4 separate regions of the Homo sapiens genome follow, and regions 1, 2 and 3 are each linked to region 4. Evidence: fine-mapped expression QTL. A gene starts in region 4. Each other region holds a variant in brackets. All regions are shown on one strand. Distances are from middle to middle.

Region 1 (5,552 bases), 53 kb after region 4:
CCCACCTAAATATTTCTCTTCTTGCTCTTCTAAGCAGAAAACCCCAGATAATCAGCTACTGGTATGAAAATTCATTCTGTAACCTTTCTCATTTTTTTTTCTTTTTTTTTTTTTTGAGACGGAGTCTTGCTCTGTGGCCCAGGCTGGTGTGCAGTGGCACGATCTCGGCTCACTGCAAGCTCCACCTCCTGGGTTCAAGCCATTCTCCTGCCTCAGCCTCCCAAGTAGCTGGGACTACAGGCGCCCGCCACCACGCCAGGCTAATTTTTTGTATTTTTAGTAGAGATGGGGTTTCACCATGTTAGCCAGATGGTCTCAATCTCATGACCTCGTGATCCGCCTGCCTTGGCCTCCCAAAGTGCTGGGATTACAGGTGTGAGCCACCGCGCCCGGCCCCTTTCTACTTTTTAAAACACTGGCATAGGCTGGGCACGGTAGCTCACACTTGTAATCCCAGCACTTTGGGAGGCTGAGGTGGGCAGATCACTTGAGGTCAGGAATTTGAGAACAGCCTGGACAACATGGTGAAACCTTGTCTCTACTAAAAAAATACAAAAATTAGCCAGGTGTGGTGAGACACACCTGTAATTCCAACTACTTGAGAGGCTGAGGAAGGAGAATCGTTTGAACCCAGGAGGTAGAGGTTGCAGTGAGCCGAGATTGTGCCACTGTGCTCCAGCCTGGGTGACAGAGGGAAACTTTGTTGCAAAAATAAATAAGTAAAACACTGGCATAGATTCTCACATTTTAATCTTTTTTTTTTTTTTTTTTCTGAGGCATAGTCTCCCTCTGTTGCCCAGGCTGAAGTGCAATGGCACCATCTTGGCTCACTGCAACCTCCGCCTCCTGGGTTTAAGCCCTTCTCCTCTCTCAGACTCCTGAGTAGCTGGGATTACAAGCACCTGCCACCACGCCCAGCTCATTTTTTTTGTTTGTTTGTTTTTTGAGACGGAGTCTCGCTCTGTCACCCAGGCAGGAGTGCAGTGGTGCGATCTCAGCTCACTGCAACCTCTGCCTCCCAGGTTCAAGCGATTCTCCTGCCTCAGCTTCCTGAGTAGGTGGGACTACAGCCGTGTGCCACCACATCCAGCTAATTTTCTGTATTTTTAGTAGAGATGGGATTTCACTGTGTTAGCCAGGATGGTCTCAATCTTCTGACCTCTGCCTGCCTCAGCCTCCCAAAGTGCTGGGATTACAGGCGTGAGCCACTGCGCCCGGCCTAATTTTTTCTATTTTTAGTATAGATGGGATTTCACTGTGTTGGCCAGGCTAGCCTCGAACTCCTGACCTCAGGTGATCTGTCCGCCTCAGCCTCCCAAAGTGCTGGATTACAGGCATGAGCCACTGGGACCAACCTTACTGTTTATTGAAATAAGATATGGGCCAGGCACAGTGGCTCACACCTGTAATCCCAGCACTTTGGGAGGCCGAGGCAGGCGGATCACGAGGTCAGGAGATCGAGACCATCCTGGCTAACACAGTGAAACCCCGTCTCTACTAAAAATACAAGAAAATTAGCCAGGCATGGTGGCGGGCGCCTGTAGTCCCAGCTACTCGGGAGGCTGAGGCAGGAGAATGGCGTGAACCCGGGAGGTGGAGCTTGCAGCGAGCGGAGATCACACCACTGCACTCCAGCCTGGGCGACAAAGTGAGACTCTGTCTCAAAAAAAAGAAAAGAAATAAGATATGGAACTCTTGTTTCTTACATGTTTCTTTTTTTTTTTTTTTTTTTTACTTTGAGGCAGAGTTTCGCTCTTGTCACCCAGACTATATTACATATTATTTTTCCTTGGGTCTTATCTTTTCTCCTTTTCTATAATCTTGGTGTTTTGTTTTGTTTTGTTTTCTTTTGAGACAGAGTCTTGCTCTGTCACCAAGCAGGAGTGCAGTGGCGCAATCTTAGCTCACTGCAATCTGCACCTCTCGGGTTCAAGCCATTCTCCTGCCTCAGCCTCCCGAGTAGCTAGGACTACTGGCACATACCACCATGCCCAGCTAATTTTTGTATTCTTATTACAGACAGGTTTTCACCATGTTGGCCAGGATAGTCTCGATCTCTTGACCTCGTGATCCACCCACCTTGGCCTCCCAAAGTTCTGGGATTACAGGCGTGAGCCACCGCTCCCGGCCAACACCCAGCTAATTTTTTTTTTTTTGGTTTGAGGCAGAGTCTCTGTCGCCCAGGCTGGAGTGCAGTGGAATGATCTCGACTCACTGCAACCTCCACCTCCCAAATTCAAGCAGTTCTCCTGCCTCAGCCTCCTGAGTAGCTGGGATTACAGTCATGTGCCACTATGCCTGGCTAATTTTTTTTTTTTTTTTTTTTTTGTTTAGTAGAGACAGGGTTTCACCATGTTGGTCAGAACTCCTGACCTCCTGATCCACCCGCCTTGGCCTCCCAACGTGTTGGAATTACAGGCGTGAGCCACTGTGCCCAGCCCGCCCTGCTAATTTTTGTATTTTTTTTTTTTTTTTTTTGAGATGGAGTCTGGCTGTGTTGCCAGGCTGGAGTGCAGTGGCGTGATGTTGGCTCACTGCAACCTCTCCCTCCGGGTTCAAGCAATTCTTGTGCCTCAGCCTCCCGAGTAGCTGGGATTACAGGCACACACCACCCCACCCAGCTAATTTTCGTATATTTTTTTTTTGTTTGTTTTTGAGACCCAGTCTCACCGTGTCATCCAGGCTGGAGTGCATTGATGC[G/A]ATCTCAGCTCACTGCAACTTCCGCCTCCCGCGTTCAGGCAATTTTCCTGCCTCAGGCTCCCGAGTAGCTGGGACTACAGGCACACACCACTACGCCCGACTAATTTTTTTTTTTTTTTTTTTTTTGAGACGGAGTCTCATTCTGTCGCCCAGGCTGGAGTGCAGTGGCGTGATGTCTGCTCACTGCAAGCTCTGCCTCCTGGGTTCACGCCATTCTCCTGCCTCAGCCTCCCTAGTAGCTGGGACTATAGGTGCCCGCCACCACGCCTGGCTAATTTTTTTGCATTTTTAGTAGAGATGGGGTTTCACTGTGTTAGCCAGTATGGTCTCAGTCTCCTGACCTCGTGATCCGCCCGCCTCGGCCTCCCAAAGTGCTGGGATTACAGGCGTGAGCCACCGCGCCTGGCGAAACTGGACGTTTTCTTACATAACCACAATGCTTATATCACACTAACAAAATTATCAGTGATTCTCTAATACCATATCATAGCAGGTCTACATTTAAATTTTTATAATTGTCCCCACAATATTGATAGTTTTTCATTTATTAGTGAATTATAATTCAATCCAGGAACCTGCATTGCATTTGGTTCTTCTGAGTCTCTTTTATTTTTATTTATTTTTTATTTTTTTGAGACAGAGTCTTGTTCTGTCGCCCAGGCTGGAGTGCAGTGGCGCGATCTCGGCTCACTGCAGCCTCTGCCTCCCGGGTTCAAGCAATTCTCCTGCCTCAGCCTGCCGAGTAGCTGGAACTACAGGCGCCTACCACCATGCCTGGCTAATTTTTTGAGTCTCTTTTAATGTATAAAAGCCAACCTCTTTTTTTCCTCATACTATTTAACTTTTTAAGGAGGTAAGACTAGTTGTCTTTATAAGAGCCTATATTCTGAGGCTGGGTGCGGTAGCTCATGCCTGTAATCCTAGCACTTTGAGAGGCCGAGGCGGGCAGATCACCTGAGGTCGGGAGTTCAAGACCAGCCTGACCAATATGGAGAAACCCCATCTCTACTGAAAATACAAAATTAGCTGGGCATGGTGGCGCATGCCTGTAATTCCAGCTACTTGGGAGGCTGAGGCAGGAGAATCGCTTGAATCTGGGAGGTGGAGGCAGGAGAATCGCTTGAACCCAGGAGGTGGAGGTTGCAGTGAGCCAAGATTGCGTCATTGCACTCCAGCCTGGGCAACAAGAGCAAAACTCGGTCTCAGAAAAAAAAAACAGATCATACATTCTGCATTCATTTGTTTACTTGTGGTGTTTTGCATAGTCTATCTCTAAAATTTCCTGGAACTGGTTATTAGATCTAAAGTCTTGATGGGATTGCATAATACAATTTTGACAAGAGTATTCACACATGATAAAATGCATAAATGAATGTTTACTAAATGAGTCTGGGGCCAGGTGCCTTGGCTCATGCCTGTAATCCCGGAACTTTGGGAGGCCGAAGTGGGTGGATCTCCTGAGGTCAGGAGTTCAAGATCAGCCTGGCCAACATGGCAAAATCCCATCTCTACTAAAAATACAAAAATTAGCCAGGCATGGTGGTGGGTACCTGTAATTCCAAGTGTTCATGAGGCTGAGGCAGGATAATTGCTTGAACCTGAGAGGCAGAGGTTATAGTGAGCTGAGATCGAGATGATATCCGTCTCATAAATAAATAAATAAATACAGATAAACGAATCTTGGACTGGCCCAGATGGACAATCCTTATATTCAGGCTTGTAAATTAGGTCTGAGCTGGGGTATGGCAGGGAACAAAAACAGTGTTGGCTCAGATTAGAAAAACATTTCTTTCTCCCTTCAAGGCCAAGACCCATCTTGAGCCTTTTTTTTTTTTTTTTTAAAACAGTCTCAAACCAGCCTGTTGCTCAGGCTGGAGCAGTGTGGCATGATCTCAGCTCACTGCAACCTCCACCTCCTGGGTTACAGCAATTCTCCCCCTCAGTCTCCCGAGTAAGCTGGGACTACAGGTGTGCGCCGCCATGCCCAGCCAATTTTTGTATTTTTAGTAGAGATGGTGTTTCAGCATGTTGTCCAGGCTGGTCTCCTGACCTTCAGTGATCCACCTGCCTTGGCCTCCCAAACTGTTGGGATTATATGCGTGAGCCATCACGCCTGGCCTCATCTTGAGCCATTTTATCTTTAACCATTTTCTTTCTCTATTTGCTTTTTTTCCAGGATCCCAGCTGGCTACTGCTTTGTAGAATTTGCAGATTTGGCCACAGCTGAGAAGTGTTTGCATAAAATTAATGGGAAACCCCTTCCAGGAGCCACACCTGTAAGGACATTTAGATAATGATGATGTTGCCATTATTATTGTCATTGCTTACTACCATCTATTGAATCCCTACTGTATACTTATTTTATTTAATCCTAAAACAACCCTTTACAGTAGGCATTGTTATCTTTGTAGGCCCAGGAAACTGAAGCTCAGGGAATTGAAATAACTTGTCCAAGGCAACACAGGTAGTAAATGGCAGAGCCAGGATTCAGACTGAAGATTGGTTGCCTCCCAAATCCATGCCTTTCCATTCTGCATTGCTGCCTCCCATAACCGAAGACTTGAAACTCTAGACCTCTTGCCTGATTGGGAAACTAGAATAGGCTGGCAGCAGCAAGGACACATTTCAAGAGAGTTGCATTCTGCTCTTCCCACAGTTACTTAGCTTACAGCTGCACCAGCTGGCACACCTGGGCTCATAGAACCATGGAGCTGGCAGTGCCCTTAGCGGTCATCCGTGCAACCCCCTCATTTTATACAGGAGAAAAAGCTGAGGCTTAGAGAGGGGGAGATGTTTTGGCCAAGGTAATTTATTTCAGTTTTCTTCAAATATTGTTCAACTCTTGAAACACC
Region 2 (5,590 bases), 61 kb before region 4:
AATTAGGCACAAGACCGAAGAATTTTTTCAATTTATTTTTTATTTTTTAAATGTATTTTTTTGGCTGGGCGCAGTGTCTCATGCCTGTAATCCCAGCACTTTGGGAGGCCAAGGCGGGTGAATCACGAGGTCAGGAGATGAGACAACCCTGGCCAACATGGTGAAACCCTGTCTCTACTAAAAATACAAAAATTAGCTGAGCATGGTGGCGCGTGCCTGTAGTCCCAGCTACTCAGGAGGCTGAGACAGGAGAATCGCTTGAAACAAGGAGGCGGAGGATGCAGTGAGCCGAGATCGTGCCACTGCACTCCAGCCTGGCGACAGAGTGAGACTCTGTCTCAAAAAAAAAGAAAAAAAAGTTTTTGTTTGTTTGTTTGTGTATTTATTTATTTACTTTTTTTTGAGATGAAGTCTCACTCTGTCACCCAAGTTGGAGTGCAGTGGCGTGATTTCGACTCACTGCAACTTCTGCTTTCCAGGTTCAAGTGATTCTCCTGTCTCATCCTCCCGAGTAGCTGGGACTACAGGTGCCCACCACTAAGCCTGGCTAATTTTTGTATTTTTGTAGAGACGGGGTTTCGCCATGTTGGCCAGGTTGCTTTCAAACTCCTGACCTCAAGTGATCCGCCTGCCTTGGCTTCCCAAAGTGCTGGGATTACAAGTGTGAGCCACTGTGCCTGGCAAATTTTTTTTTTAATTGAAAATAATTGTACCTGTTCATGGGCTACATAATGGATATTTCCATATGTATGATGTGATTAGATTAGGGTAATTAGCATATTCATCATCTCCAACATGTATTTATTTATATTGGGAAGGTTGAAATCCTCCTCAGCTATTTGAAACTACATATTATTAACTATAGTCATTCTGCAGTGGCATAGAACACTAGAACTTTTTCCTCTTATCTAGCTGTAATTTTGTATTCTTTAACAAATCTTTCCCTACCCATCCCTTCCCATTATCTCTCCCAGCCTCTAGTAGCCTCTGTTGTACTTTTTACTCCTATGAGATCAACTTTTTTTTAGCTTCTATGTATGAGTGAGAACATGTGGTGTTAAACTTCCTGTTCCTAGCTTATTTAACTTAAAATAATGTCCTTAGTTCCATCCATGTTGCTGAGAATGACAGGATTTCATTGTCTTTCTTTCTCTCTCTCTCTTCTTTCTTTCTTTCGTTCTTTCGTCTCAACTCTGTCACCGAGGCTGGAGTGCAGTGGCGCGATCTCGGCTCACTGCAACCTCCACCTCCCAGGTTCAAGCAATTCTCCTGCCTCAGCCTCCCGAGTAGCTGGGACTACGGGTGCACACTGTCATACCCAGCTAATTCTTTTTTTTTTTCTTGAGACAGAATCCCACTCTGTCACCCAGGCTGGAGTACAGTGACACAATCATAGCTCACTGCAGCTTCAGCCTCCTAGATTCAAGCGATCCTCCCCCCTCAGCCTCCTAAGTAGCTGGGACTACAGGCACATGCCACCACACCTGGCTAGTTTTTTTTATTTTTTGACGAAACGAGGTCTCACTCTCTTTCCCTGGCTGGTCTCAAACTCCTGGACCTGGACTCAAGTGATCTTCCTGCCTCAGCCTTCCAAAGTGCTGGGATTACAGTTGTGAGCTAGTACACCTGGCTCATTCTTTTTTATGGCTAAATAGTATTCCATTTTGTATATATACCACATTTTCTTTATCCATTCATCTGTTGTTGAACACCTAGGTTGATTCCATATCTTGGCTGTTGTTGAGTAGTACTACAGTAAACATGGAAGTGCAGATATCTCTTCAGTATAATGATTTCCTTTCCTTTGGATATATTCCCAGTAATGGTATTGCTGGATCATATGGTAGCGCTATTTGTAGTTTTTCTTTCTTTTGAGGACCCTCCATACTGTTCCCCATAGTGGCTATACTAGTTTACATTCCCACCGACAGTGTATAGTGTTCCCTTTACTCTGTACCCTCACCAGCACTGGCTACTTTTTGTCTTTTTGATAATAGCCTCCTAACTGGGGTGAGATGATACCTCATTGTGGTTTTGATTTGCATTCACCTGATGATTTGTTATGTTGAGCATTTAAAAAAATATATTTGGCTTTTTTTTTTTTTTTTTTTTTTTTTTTTTTGAGACAGAGTCTTGCTCTGTCGCCAGGCTGGAATGCAGTGGCGTGAGCAGTCTTGGCTCACTGCAACCTCCGACTCCCTGGTTCAGGCTGTTCTCCTGCCCCAGCCTCCCGAGTAGCTGGGATTACAGGCACGTGCCACCATGACCAGCTAATTTTTGTATTTTTAATACAGACAGGGTTTCACCATGTTGGCCAGGATGGTCTTGATCTCCTGACCTTGTGATCCGCCCACTTCAGCCTCCCAAAGTACTGGGACTACAGGCATAAGCCACAGCCCTTGGCCTATTTGGGCATTTTTATGTCTTCTTTTGAGAAATGTCTCTTCAGATCATTTGGTCTTTCCCATTTTTATATTATTTATTTTTTTATTTTTATTATTATTATTTTTTGAGACAGAGTCTCGCTGTGTTGGCCAGGCTGGAGTGCAGTGGCGCGATCTCGGCTCACTGCAAGCTCCACCTCCCGGGTTCACGCCATTCTCCTGCCTCAGCCTCCCAAGTAGCTAGGACTACAGGCGCCTGCCACCGCACCCAGCTAATTTTTTTTTTTTTTTTTTGTATTTTTAGTAGAGACGGGGTTTCACCGTGTTAGCCAGGATGGTCTCGATCTCCTGACCTCGTGATCCACTTGCCTCGGCATCCCAAAGTGCTGGGATTACAGGTGTGAGCCACTGCGCCCAGCCTCCCATTTTTATATTATTTAACTATTTATTTATTTATTTTATTTTTTTGAGGCAGAGTCTTTCTCTGTTGCCCAGGCGGAGTGCAGTGGCAC[G/A]ATTTCAGCTCACTGCAACCTCCACCTCTCGGGTTCAAGCAATTCTCTGCCTCAGCCTCCTGAGTAGCTGGGATTACAGGCGCCTGCCAGCATGCCCGACTAATTTTTGTATTTTAGGTAGAGACGGGGTTTCACCATCTTGGCCAGGCTGGTCCTGAACTCCTGACCTCATGATCCACCTGCCTCAGCCCCCCAAAGTGCTGGGATTACAGGCGTGAGCCACCTCACCTGGCCATATTTAATTATTCTTTTTTAAGACAGAGTCTCGCTATGTTGCCCAGGCTGGTCTTGAACTCCTGGGCTCATGCGATCCTCCCACTTTGGCCTCCCAAAGTGCTAGGATTACAAACATAAGTCACTGCACCCAGCCCTTCCTAATTCTAATTAGAAGGACCAAAGATTTTTAATAAATTCTCTCCAACCATTTGGCTTGGAACTTTCCTTCTCTGTCTTTCCATTTTACCTCTCTTTTTTTTTCCTTTTTGCCCCTTCATTTACCCTAATTCACTAATTAACTTTTCCCCCCACTTTTCTTTTGCATAATAATATATTGCTATAAAAGATACTGTATGTTCTCTTTCCTACATTCCTTTTCCATAACCATTTGATTTATTTTCTCTGAAACTTGGAGTTATGGGGTTCTCACCCTTATGATACTGGAAGCAGTTTTGGGGAACGTGATTTGGAAATATATCATCCCCCATCTCTACAAAAAAAATGTAACAATTAGTCAGGTGTGGTGGTGCACACCTGCAGTCCCAGCTGTTCAGGAGGCTGAGATGGGAGGATCACTTGAGCCCAGGAGGTTGAGGCTGCAGTGAGCCATGATCATGTCACTGCACTGCAGCCTGGCTAACAGAGCGAGACTGTGTTTGAAAAACAAAAAAGAAAGGAAAAGAAATATATTATCACTTAGAGGCAAAATCCTAAGGAGATTGCAGGATGAATAAAATTTAACATAGCTACATAACAACAATAAAACTGGAGTAAATAATAGGTTAATTTAAAATAAAGTACTTCATGAGATTTTGGAGAAAAAGGCTTAGTAGTATTTGGTTATCAGAATTATAAAGACATTTCTCATACCTGTCTGCTGTTTATCTAACAGTAAATGCTTTCTTTTAAAAAAGGAGAAACAGGCATACTTTCCTCATGTAATCCAGTGTTCAGGAGGAGGTGGCAATATAGGGGTCTGTCATAAACTCCTTAAAAGATTCTCTGTTATCAAATTTGGACTACCAACCAAAACTTATTGATCCCTCTCTCTGCTCCAGTGGATTTTCTAAATAGGCCATTAATAAGGTTTGGATCTAGGTCCCCAACCAGATCCCATGTTAAATTGTAATCCCCAGTGTTGGAAGTGGGACCTGGTGGGAGGTGATTGGGGTGGATTTCTCACGAATGGTTTAACACCATCCACTTAGTACTGTCCTCAAGATAGTAAGTTCTCATGAGATCTGGTCATTTAAAAGTGTGTGGAGGCTGGGTGCAGTGGCTCATGCCTGTAATCCCAGCACTTTGGGAGGCCGAGGCAGGTGGATCATGAGGTCGGGAGTTCAAGACCAGCCTGGCCAACATGGTGAAACCCTGTCTTTACTAAAACTACAAAAATTAGCCGGGCATGGTGGCGTGTGCCTGTAGTCCCAGCTATTCAGGAGGCTGAGGCAGGAGAATCCCTTGAACCCTGGAGGCGGAGGTTGTCGTGAGCCAGGATTGCGCCACTGTACTCCAGCCTGGGCAACAGAGTGAGGCTCCATCTCAAAAAAAAAGAAAAGTGTGTGGCACCTGCCCCCTTGCTCTCTTGCTCCTGTTCTGGGCCATGTGACGTGTCTACTCCCCCTTCATCTTCCACCATGATTGTAAGTTCCTGCAGCTTCCCCCGAAGCCAGGCAGATACTAGCATCATTCTTCCTATACAGACTGCAGAAACATGAGCCAATTAAGCCTCTTTTCTTTATAAATTACCCAGTCTCAGGTATTTCTTTTTATTTATTTATTTATTTATTTATTTAGATAGAGTCTCACTTTGTTGCCCAGGCTGGAGTCCAGTGGTGCGATCTCAGCTCACTGCAACCTCTACCTCCTGGGTTCAAAGTAATTCTCCTGCCTTGGCCTCCTGAGTAGCTGGGACTACAGGCGCGTGCCACCAAGCCTGGCTACTTTTTGTATTTTTAGTAGAGACGGGGTTTCGCCGTATTGGCCAGGCTGGTCTTGAACTCCTGACCTCAGGTGATCCTCCTGCCTTGGCCTCCCAAAGTGCTGGGATTACAGGTGTGAGCCACTGTACCTGGCCTCAGGTAATTCTTTATAGCAATGCAAGAATGGACTAATAGACCTATTATCACAACCTACATATGTATTTCCTCTTTCTTTTTTCTTTTTTTTTTTTTTGAGACAGTCTCACTCTGTCGCCCAGGCTGGAGTGCAGTGGCACGATCTCGACTTACTACAACCTCTGCCTCCTGGATTCAGGTGATTCTCCTGCCTCAGCCTCCCAAGTAGCTGGCATTACAGGTGCCCACCACCATGCCTGGCTATGTATTTCGTCTTTCTACTTGCAAGTAAACTTTGGAAAGTTTGAAGTTTTTTTTCCATGAGTGAATAGCTTATATTCTGGCCCTTCACTATAAAAACATACCCTTAACCTGGAATTTTTTGTCAGAACAGTGTGCACATTAAGTTGCCAGTGGTAAA
Region 3 (5,590 bases), 92 kb before region 4:
GTTTGTTTTTGTTTTTTGGGGGTTTTTTTGAGGTGGAGTCTTGCTCTGTCACCCAGGCTGGAGTACAATGGTGTGATCTCGGCTCACTGCAACCTCCGCCTCCTGGGTTCAAGCAATTCTCCTGCCTCAGCCTCCCAAGTAGCTGGGACTACAGGCACCTGCCACCACACCCAACTAATTTTTGTATTTTTAATAGAGACGGGATTTCGCCATATTGGCCAGGCTGGTCTTGAACTCCTGACCTCAGATGATCCACCTGCCTCGGCCTCCGAAAGTGTTTGGATTACAGGTGTGAGCCCGGCCTGAGATTATTTTTTTCTAAACACTTATTTAAATCTTGGAATTTGTAAATTAACATTCATTCAATCATAATATGGAGTTTATAGGAAAACAGAAATGACTCATATTTAACTACCATTCTCCTCTGTCTCCATTTTTCCTTCTAAATGTTATAATGATTTTTTTCTTAGTTGTTTACTATACATATACACACATATACATATGATAAGAATTTGGTGTACTCAGTGTCATTTGACAAAGAAAAGAATTGAGGATGTAAAATGAGTTTGTTTCTTTTGGTGGAGTGAGAATTTTGTTATAATCAAGTTAGCTAATAATTAAGTAGAAATATTGAAAAAGAGATAAAAGACTACACATTGGGTACAGTGTACACGGCTTGGATGATGGTTGCACCAGAATCTTAGAAATCACCACTAAAGAACGTATTCATGTAACCAAATACTACCCATTCCCCAAAACCTATTGAAGTAAAAAATGACATAAAAAAGGAAAAAAAGAAAACAGAAACCACCCAAAAGAAAGAAAGAAAGAACGAATGAACAAAAGAAAGAAAGAACGAATGAACAAAAGAAAGAAAGAAAGAGAAAGAAAGAAAGAATTATTTGTGGTATTCTGGAAATAAAAGTAGTGAGGGATTTTTACGAATAAAGTACCAGAAGGATAGACCTAAGGTCTCTAGGACCTTTTCTACCTGGACAGATGCTTACACATTTCATTATATAATATTTAAATATCATGTTCGTTAATATCACTATTGGTCTCGTTGAAAAAAATGTTAAATGTTGGGAAGCTGTCAAGCTCATTCTGGATGTAAATTTTCCAAAATAGGAATTTCACTTGAAAGCTTGAATTCTATCACTAGCAACAAATACTGTTAATTTTCTTTATTAGTGACAGGCTTACTTTTGAGAAAATGCCTGTCAGCTATCTAAGCTTGAATAACATAGCTTGTTGTTCAGTCTTTCAAGTAAAAATAGTATTCCATGAAGAAAACTGTCTAGTTCAGTTTGCAACTCAGTCACACAAATGCCTTTCCTGGAGATAACCATCATACTTAGTATACAAATGTGCTTTATACATATTTCTGTTTCATCATAAACAGTAATAAAAATATATGTACTAAAGGGTTGATATTTATTAAAACTAATATTTTTTATTGCTTTATCAAGGACATTCTTAAAGTTGAATTTATTTTTCACTGTAACTGTGTAGTTGTGAAGAATACAATGATTTCTGCTACAGTTTGGTGCTGTTGCCTTGATTTGTGTTAAGGTGCTAACAGTTTTGCTCACCATTGCTTTTGTACCATCAGTGCAAGTGTCAACACAGTGGAAAAGGCAAATAATTTTTTTGTATTCTTATGTATTTAGTTTTACCTCTTGGACTTCTGAAAGGATCTCAGGGATCCCCAGAGATCAGCAGATTATACTTGCTTCATTTTCCTGAGGTTCCTAGAGGCCCTTCTATGGAAGTCATGAGTAAAGTTAAGATTTAATCCTGGAGATTGTATTGGGCAGGGTTTCAGTGTGGACTAGGTCTTGGACATTTGACAGAAATATGGTCAGAGGGAGTGATTAGCTCTGTGGTTTCTCCTAAGCAGGAGTACCCTGCACCACTACCCCCGGGCCACAGGAGGTGAGCAGTGGGCCAGTGAGCATTACAGTCTGAGCTCCACCTCCTGTCAGATCAGTGATTAGGTGGAACAGTTTCATCCCAAACCACCCCAACACCCCCGTCTGTAGAAAAATTGTCTTCCATGAACCTGGTCCCTGGTGCCAAAAAGGTTGGGGACCGCTGGGTTAAAGAAACTTTTGTGGAGCGAAATGAGTCTGGAACTCATTAGGCAATCAAGTATGTTCAAAGAAGAAATCCATAAGCATTTAGTCAAGACAGGCTGAGGGCCAGGCTCACCTGGGTACTGTGTTCTTAGCTTTAAAAAGGATAAATAGCAGCAGAGATATTGGTGATGACAGCTTTCAATATATCTCTTGAGTCACATTGCTCCAGTCTGTGTACAGGTGGCCTTGCAGTCTGTAGAGGTGGTACGCAACTGTCATCCTGGGTTATCCAGTCTCCATTTTCCTGACAGCTTTGCTTCTTTCCTGTGTTAGCTCCTTTGTTTCCTAAACCCTCATGTCTTCCTCTGTCTTGGTTGCCAGTAGCTTTTTGATGTTGAACCTCCTGGAATAATTATCTAATTCATTTCTTTTTCCTTTAGATATGTTTCCTGCAAGATTTATTCAACTTTATCTTCTACTTTTATTAAATTTTTCTTTTCTACTATTAGAGTTTAATCTCCAGGAGGTCTTTTTGAAGTCTCTGCATGTTTCTTTTTATACTATCCTTTCATTCTTTCAACAGATTTTCCTTGCCCTGCATAGTCTCTTTTTTTCCTAACATTGTTTTTAAATATTGATTTGGTTTCTTTTATGTTAGAGTTTTTCTCTGATGTCTAGTAATAATTAACTGTCTGCTGATGGTTAAAAGTGAGGGACTAAATAGCCAGTTAGAAGCTTTAAATGTATAGGCAGGTTGCCTTTGGGTGAGCTTCTTGGCCTTATTGTTGATGAACAT[T/C]CTCATATCAGTATCAGGGTCTAAGGGGCACAGTCTTCCCACTGTGTTTGGATGGTAAGGGGTGAAGAAAACTGACTGAAGAGACTGCTGCATTCAGCATTAATTATGCATATTTTCACTTAATTCTCTTCCATTTTTAATTTTACTTGTATTTGTATTTTATTTTACTTTATTTTTATCTTTTGAGATGGAGTCTTGCTCTGTCACCCAGGCTAGAGTGCAGTGGCGCCATCTCAGCTTACTGCAACCTCTGCCTCCTGGGTTCAAATGATTCTCCTGGCCTCAGCCTCCCGAGTAACTGGGATTACAAGCACCCATCACTGCCTGGCTAATTTTTGTAGTTTTAGGGTTTCACCATGTTGGCTAGGCTGGTCTCGAACTCCTGACCTCAGGTGATCCGCCTGCCTCGGCCTACCAAAGTGCTGAGATTACAGGCATGAGCCTCTGCAGCTGGCCTTATTTTCTTTTTCATTTTATTTTTTTATTTTTATTTTTTGGGGTCAGTCTTCCTCTGTCTCAAAAAAAAAAAAAAAAAAAAAAGCACCGCAGCCTCGACCTCCTGAGCTCAAACAATTCTCCCACCTCTGCCTCCCAAGTAGCTGGGACTATAGGCACATACCACCATGCCTGACTAATTTTTTTACTTTTTGTAAAGATGCAGTCTCCCTATGTTGCCCAGGCTGGTCTTGAACTCCTGGGCTCAAGTGATTCTCCCACCTCGGCCTCCCCAAAAGTTGAGATTACAGGCATGAGCCATTGCACCCAACCCCTTCCATTTTTTGTACCATATCCCTACCATCAGTTGCCTTTTGCGACCCCTTTCCAGAGACCATTTGCTTTACACTTTCTTGGAAAACAGATTCCAAAATTCCGCCAGAGTTAGTGTAGGACAGACATTGAAGATCATGGAGTAGGGAAAGTGATAGAGGAATCAAACAGCTTTTACCTTGCTTCTCCTGATTTTAGGTCACCTCCCTTTCATCTCATTTCAGAGACCTGGATAAAATACAATGAATGTATTACTTGTTAACCTATACTGGTGTATACTACCAGTTAAAAGAAAAAATTAGGCTGGGCGCGGTGGCTCACCCCCGTAATCCTAGCACTTTGGGAGGCCGAGGTGGACGGTTTGCCTGAGCTCAGGAATTCGAGACCAGCCTGGGCAACAAGGTGAAACCCCGCCTCTACTAAAATACAAAAAATTACCCAGGCATGATGGCGTGCTACTGTAGTCCCAGCTACTTGGGAGGCTGAGGCAGGAGAATTGCTTGAACCCGGGAGGCGGAGGTTGCAGTGAGCCAAGATCACGCCACTCCACGCCAGCCTGGGCAACAGAGCGAGACTCTGTCTCAAAAAAAAAAAAAAGAGAGAGAAAAGAAAGAAAAAAATTCATGGCTACACTGTACATAAGTGCTGAGTGAAGGAAGGATCCAGAGAGGATGTGCATAGAATTTGTGCTACCATGATGCTCCACACCCCACTACTTTCAAAAATAGCTAATTCGTGCTTCTGCTTTCTTCCTCCCTTTTCAACTGCTTATGGAGTTAACAGTCATTCTCCCAAGAGCATACCAGAACAAAAGGGACTGAAACCCTAGCATATCACTTATTTAAAAGTACTGAGTTGTGACTTCCTTCTAAAGATTTTTGAGGTGGAGGAGGATCTGCATACTAATTGCCTTCCCAAAATGTTTTAAATCATCTGAATACTTCATTAAGTTTCTATATACCCTCTCTTGTATAAATATGAACATGACTTGTTGAAAATACTTTTTTGGGTGTGTTTGGTGATTGTTTAATGAGATGTAGATTATCAGTTTGCATTCTGAATTTAAAGCTAGTTGCAAAGGCTTTATTCATATGCATGGCATTCTGGAAACAAATTTATAAGATAATACCTCCTTTTGATTAGAATTTGTATCATATAGGAAATAGGAGAAGTAGTTTGTTAAGGTAGCAAATAGAATTTATTATTTCCTAAACAAAGTCAATTATTTTTTTCTTATTCTGTATCTGAATTTATGAATTATTATGATGATGCTATAAAGGAGTTTTTTTCTAGCTGTTTAAGAACATTTGCCAAGGAGCCAAACTCAAGACATAATGCACTTCAAAGTTCATGGGAAAACATTTTTGATGTTATGTTGTTATCACTTGAAGCTCAAAATATGCCAGTAACATAGTCCTTCCCTCCCTCCTCTTTAAGAATGAAAGACAAAATACAAGCTTAATTAGTTTTGAGGTCCTCAGGGTGTAGGAGTTAAATTCCTCCAGTATTACATGATGCCAAAATTGATGCTAGTTCCATTTTTTCTCCTAGTGGTCTTGATGAGAAATTTAATATAGCATTATTATAAATATATATTAAATATCCTCTGTCATCTTATTTCCTGAAGGGGTATAAAGGTCAACATGTTTTTACTGTTACATCCTACCCACTGCCCAGTAGTAAACACACAATACATATCTGTATGTGTTTCTTCCAGTGGTTTTAATTTTTCTGCATAAGATAGAATTACCAATCTTAAGGAAAACAGAGTACACAGGCACCAAATTCTGTGAACCTGAATAACAGATATTATGTAATTATTTTTTCTGTCAGTAGAAAAAGATGAGCTGTAGTAGTAGTAGTAGAAGCCTGGAAAGGCAGTAATGCTGACATTCTGGACTATTGCCTGTGTCCTCTCACCACTTTTTATCACTTCTGACTACGTCTT
Region 4 (5,590 bases):
ACTCTCCTCATTCTTCCAAGACGACTTTAGCCACCATGCTAATTCTTACAACTTCTAAATATTTTATCACCAACTCAGATTTCTTACAGGAAGCCCAACCCCATATATCTAATTGCTCTTTGGACTTATATACAACCAGATGTTACTCAGGTAACTCGTATATACTCCAATGTGGACATTACTCCTCCCCCACTGCCTGCATTTCCACTTATCAAGGTTAGAGACCATAGTATGTTCAGCCTCCTAAGCCTGAAACTCTGGTATCCTCAAGTTCTTCTCTTACCTTGCAATTCCAGTGGGACGACAAACCCTACATCAGAAATGTCTTTTTTTTTTTTTTTTTTTTTTTTTTTTGAGATAGGTTCTTGCTCTGTTGCCCAGGCTGGAGTGCAGTGGCATGATCACGACTCACTGCAGCCTCCATCTCCTGGGCTCAGGTGATCCTCACACCTCATAAGTAGCTAGGATTACAGGAATGTGCCACTACACTCAGCTAACATTTTTTTTAAAATTTTGTAGGCCGGGGTCGGGCGCAGTGGCTCAAGCCTGTAATCCCAGCACTTTGGGAGGCCGAGGCAGGTGGATCATGAGGTCAGGGGTTCAAGACCAGCCTGACCAACATGCTGAAAACCCGTCTCTACTAAAAATACAAAAATTAGCTGGGCATGGTGGCGGGCGCCTGTAATCCCAGCTACTCAGGAGGCTGAGGCAGGAGAATTGCTTGAACCTGAGAGGCGGAGGTTGCAGTGAGCCGAGATCGCACCACTACACTCCAGCCTGGGGGACAGAGTGAGACTTCATCTAAAAAAAAAAAAAAATTTGTAGGCCGGGCACGGTGGCTCATGCCTGTAATCCCAGCACTTTGGGAGGTCAAGGCGGGCAGATCACGTGGTCAGGAGTTCAAGACCACCCTGGCCAATATGGTGAAACCCCGTCTCTACTGAAAATACAAAAATTGGTGGGGCATGGTGACACTTGCTTGCAGTCCCAGCTACTCGGGAGGCTGAGGCAGGAGAATTGCTTGAACCCAGGAGGCAGAGAATGCAGTGAGCCAAGATCGAGCCACTGCACTCCAGCCTGGGCAACAGAGCAAGACTCCATCTCAAAAAAAAAAAAAAAAAGAATTGCTGCGATAGTAAATAATGTACGTAATAAAGCATTCAGAACAAAATCTAATATGTAGGAGGAACACCATAAACGTTACTACTCAAGATAGCCCAGCTGTGATAGCTCTGTCTCTCTAGCCAACGTTTTTCCACCTTACACCACACTAAAAATTCCATCATATTTGCAACATTTCTTATGTATATATATCGTAAGCATTCTTTACTTGCCTACTTCATATTCAGAGGGTTTTGTGTGTGGTAAAATATACATAAAACTTGCCATTTTTAACTAGTTTAAAATGTATAGGGGGCCAGGTGTGGTGGCTCAGGCCTGTAATCCCAGTACTTTGGGAGGCCAAGGCGGGCATCACTTGAGGTGAGGAGTTCGAGAGCAGCCTGGCCAACATGGTGAAACCCGGTCTCTACTAAAAATACAAAAATTAGCCGGGCATGGTGGCATGCCTATAGTCCCAGCTACTCGGGAGGCTGAGGCAGGAGAACTGGTTGAACCTGGGAGGTGGAGGTTGCAGTGAGCCGAGATCACACCACTTCCTTCCAGCCTGGGCGACAGAGCGAGACTCCGTCTCAAAAAAAAAAAAAAAAAAAAAGTCCAGGTGCGCTGGCTCATGCCTGTAATCTCAGCACTTTGGAGGCCGAGGCGGGTGGATTGCTTGAGGTCAGGAGTTCGAGACCAGCCTGGCCAAGATGGTGAAACCCCGTCTTGCTAAAAATACAAAAATTAGCCAGGCACGGTGGCGGGCGCCTGTAATCCCAGCTACTGGGGAGGCCGAGGCAGGAGAATCGCTTGAACCCGGGAGGCCGGGGTTGCAGTGAGCCGAGACCGCGCCATTCCACTCTAGCCTGGGTGACAGAGCAAAACTCCATCTCGAAAAAAAAAGAAAGAGTATAGGGCAGTGCTTTTAATTACATTCATTCACACTGTTGTGCAATGGAGTTTTTTATTTTTTATTTTTATTTATTTTTATCCGGGCCAGGCCTGGAGTTTTTAAACTTTTATCTGATTCGTCTAGGGGCACTTTCATCTTATTTACCTTCACATTTATCAAATTATTTCTTTCACAGGTGACAGAGCAGATTCAATTCCTTTTGATACTCCGTATTTCTCTATATGTATTTTTTTCATTCTGCATTCTTATTATTCCAACGTTTTACTTATTTATTTGGAGAGAGAGTTTCGCTCTGTCGACCAGGATGGAGTGCATCGGCGCGATCTCGGCTCACTGCAACCACCGCCTCCCAGGTTCAAACGATTCTCATGCTTCAGCCTCCCGAGTAGCTGGGACTGGAGGTGCGCGGCACCATGCCTGGCTTATGTTCTGTATTTTTTGTAGAGACGGGGTTTCGCCATGATGCCCAGGCCGGTCTCGAACTCCTGGCCTCAAGCGATCCGCCCCTCACGGCCTTCAGAGCTGCTGTAATCACAGGCGTGAGCCACCGCGTTCGACTCTTCCAAAAACTTTTTGGCCAGTTTATCTAAGGGCATATCCTACAGACTGAGTCCAGTGATTGCACAGAAGTAAACGTCCTCTGCAGCTACATACCTACAAACCTATTTCTGTAACGTACATTCCCCAGCAAGGTCCCGCGGGAAGGATCCACTACCGCGAGAGGCCTCCCAGCCAGGAAGGGGTGGGGCTCAATCTGCAGTAGATTCCCAGAAGCCTCAGTGAGTTTCTGATTCTCTAACTGCGCATGCTTCTGCGCACGCGCAATAGACATTCCAGGACTTCCGGGCACTTCGTAAGGTTTAAAAAGGATGCTTCGCGTTTTCTCTCTCCTTTTTGGAGACAGATTCGCAGTGGTCGCTTCTTCTCCTTGGTAAGTGTGATCCTTGGTAAGTGTGATCAGATGCTTGCCACCGGAGTTGTGGGTCTAATGCTATAGATCAGTAGCCGAGCTTCCCTAGGAAGATCATATAGTATTTTATTTATTTACTTTTTTTTTTTTTTTGAGACGGAGTCGGTTTGTCACTCAGGCTGGACTGCAGTGCTCGTTGCAACCTCCGCCTGCCGGGTTCAAGCGATTCTCGTGCCTCAGCCTCTCCAGCAGCTGGGATTACAGGCACGTGCCACCACGCCCGGCCAATTTTTGTATTCTTAGTGGAGACGGGGTTTCGCTATGTTGGTCAGGCTGGTTTTGAACTCCTGATTTCCGGTGATCCACCACCCTCGGCCTTCCAAAGTGCTGGGATTACAGGCGTGAGCCACCGCGCCTGGCCGGAAATCATGTAATTTAAAACTATATATGGGTGTCTTAGGCGGCATCGGTCCCAACTCTAAAGTACGCGTTAGACGGGCCTGGGCCAGAAGTGGGCCATGGAGACCTCGGGACCCGCAGGGCTGCCGCCCGACCCAGCGAGCCTCTGAAGGTGCACCGCCACCCCCACTGTTTATCTTACTGCCTCATAGTAGGCACATTGTCGTTCTCAATATAATTGCACACAGTTTTATTCTGGATCCTCATTTGCCTTTAAGAATTTTCTCAATTTTTCTTTTTATTTGATCGCACCACTGCAACCTCCGCCTGCTGGGCTCAAGCAATTCTCCTGCCGCAGCCTCCCGAGTAGCTGGGACTACAGGCGTGTACCACCGCGCCTGGCTTATTTTTGTATTTTTAGTAGAGACGGGATTTCACCATGTTGGCCAGGCTGGTCTCCAACGCCTGACCTTGTGGTCCGCCACGCCAGGCCGAAGATTTTCATAATTTGGAAGCATTGCGTTTCGTAATTATGCTTTCTCGTATTTTTGTGATTTGGGTCATTTTTATTTTTATATTTTTAGGATTACAGGCGTGAGCCATCGTGCCTGGCCGATTTGGGGGTAATTAACAAGTCCACGTGTTTCATTTGAATTTAGGATAGCTGGGCCTAATTGTTGTCTTTGCTTCTGCGGTACCTTCCACATAGTACTAACCGCCTATTGTAAAGTAATTAGAATAGCTGAATATGCATGTTACCAGTCTAGAAACCGATTTTTTTTTAACACCCCACTGTGGACAGGGTGGAAACTCGTTTGCTTTCTTGTTTAAGATCTGTAGTAACATGAATGGATGAAATTGTTTCCTATTGGATTCTGTAAATTTATGCGTTACACTGATTGTCCAACGTGGATACACCCGGGAGGTCACTCTCCCCGGGCTCTGTCCAAGTGGCGTAGGGGAGCATAGGGCTCTGCCCCATGATGTACAAGTCCCTTTCCACAACGTTGGAAATAAAGCTGGGCCTCGTGTCTGCGCCTGCATATTCCTACAGCTTCCCAGAGTCCTGTCGACAATTACTGGGGAGACAAACCATGCAGGAAACAGCCTTCTAGAGCACTGAATCTGGATTGAAGTCTTTTTTTTTTTTTTTTTTTTTGGAGATGGAGTCGCTCTGTTGCCCAGGCTGGAGTGCAGTGGCGCACTCCATTGCCTCTGCCTCCCGGGTTCAAGTGATTATGCTAAGTGATTCTCCTGCCTTGGCCTCCTGAGTAGCTGGGATTACAGGCCCCCGCCACCACGCCAGGCTAATTTTTGTATTTTTAGTAAAGACAGGGTTTCACCATGTTGGTCAGGCTGGTCTCAAACTCCTGACCTTGTGATCCGCCAGCCTCTGGCCTCCCAAAATGTTGGGATTACAGGCGTGAGCCACCACACCTGGCTGGATTGAAGTCTTAATACATGTTTAAGAAAAATTGGCTAAAAAGTAGCCAGGCATGATGATAGGTAGCTGGAGGAAGGAGAATCGCTGGAGCCCAGGAGTGACCTATACTCAAACCTATACTCCAGTGCCACTGTACTCCAACCCCAGGCGATAGCATGAGGCCCCTCGTTGAAAAAGTTTAGGGTTTTGCTGTACTAATAGATTAATATCTTGTTTTGCAGGATTTGTTAAGGATTCCAAGTAACTCTTATTTGGTGAGTAAATCTGCTAATTGTTTTTTGCTTATCAGCTCTTTGTCAATGATTTCTGTAATGGAAATAGGATTGAAGAGACTTTTATTCTAGTTGGTCAGGATTTACCTCTGAGGCATTTAATCATTCTCAGAGCAATAGCCAAATATCGACTTTGCTGCATTTTTGTAGGCATGTTGACATAACTTCAACATATGCTCTGTTCTGTAAAAATTGCTTTTTTTAGTCAGCTCATTAAAAGTGCAAAGTAGTAAAAGCTGCCCTAGTGAACTGTAGGAAGCCTAATTGGCTTTATCTACATGTGTAGCCTGAGCTGAGAAAGATACTAGCCCTTGAAAATACTGTGGGTGATTAGCAATATTGGATTTGTCGGTTACTCCAATTCCTCACTAATGAGCATTCCAACGTGGATACCCTGGGAGGTCACTCTCCCCAGGCTCTGTCCAAGTGGCATAGGGGAGCTTAGGGCTCTGCCCCATGATGTACAGTCCCTTTCCACAACGTTGAAGATGAAGCTGGGCCTCGTGTCTGCGCCTGCATATTCCTACAGCTTCCCAGAGTCCTGTGGACAA

The links. PIP is the estimated chance that this variant, and not a neighbour inherited with it, causes the effect.
Region 1: its variant is the best candidate, but not a certain one, in a credible set for the expression of RCC1 in lung (TOPMed, PIP 0.78).
Region 2: its variant is the best candidate, but not a certain one, in a credible set for the expression of RCC1 in whole blood (INTERVAL, PIP 0.72).
Region 3: its variant is the best candidate, but not a certain one, in a credible set for the expression of RCC1 in CD4 T cells (BLUEPRINT, PIP 0.52).

The regions. Positions count from the first base shown.
Region 1 is chr1:28,555,757-28,561,308 of GRCh38, forward strand. It overlaps TRNAU1AP (tRNA selenocysteine 1 associated protein 1), which reads left to right. Exons shown (of 9, transcript NM_017846.5): 3 at 4,877-4,976. Among named protein-coding and RNA genes, the nearest start is that of TRNAU1AP, 5.4 kb to the left of the region's middle. The variant G/A (reference allele first, on the strand shown) is at 2,701.
Region 2 is chr1:28,442,123-28,447,712 of GRCh38, forward strand. All of the region lies in intron 2 of PHACTR4 (phosphatase and actin regulator 4), which reads left to right. Among named protein-coding and RNA genes, the nearest start is that of SNHG3, 61 kb to the right of the region's middle. The variant G/A (reference allele first, on the strand shown) is at 2,897.
Region 3 is chr1:28,411,036-28,416,625 of GRCh38, forward strand. All of the region lies in intron 2 of PHACTR4 (phosphatase and actin regulator 4), which reads left to right. Among named protein-coding and RNA genes, the nearest start is that of PHACTR4, 44 kb to the left of the region's middle. The variant T/C (reference allele first, on the strand shown) is at 2,875.
Region 4 is chr1:28,503,140-28,508,729 of GRCh38, forward strand. It overlaps RCC1 (regulator of chromosome condensation 1), which reads left to right and starts at 2,904. Exons shown (of 13, transcript NM_001381865.2): 1 at 2,904-2,945; 2 at 4,989-5,021. SNHG3 (small nucleolar RNA host gene 3) reads left to right here and starts at 2,804. Exons shown (of 4, transcript NR_036473.1): 1 at 2,804-2,945; 2 at 3,081-3,188; 3 at 4,989-5,021. It overlaps SNORA73A (small nucleolar RNA, H/ACA box 73A), which reads left to right and starts at 4,226; the gene lies at 4,226-4,432. It overlaps SNORA73B (small nucleolar RNA, H/ACA box 73B), which reads left to right and starts at 5,419; the gene lies at 5,419-5,590. RefSeq lists enhancers at 3,718-4,012, 4,204-4,969.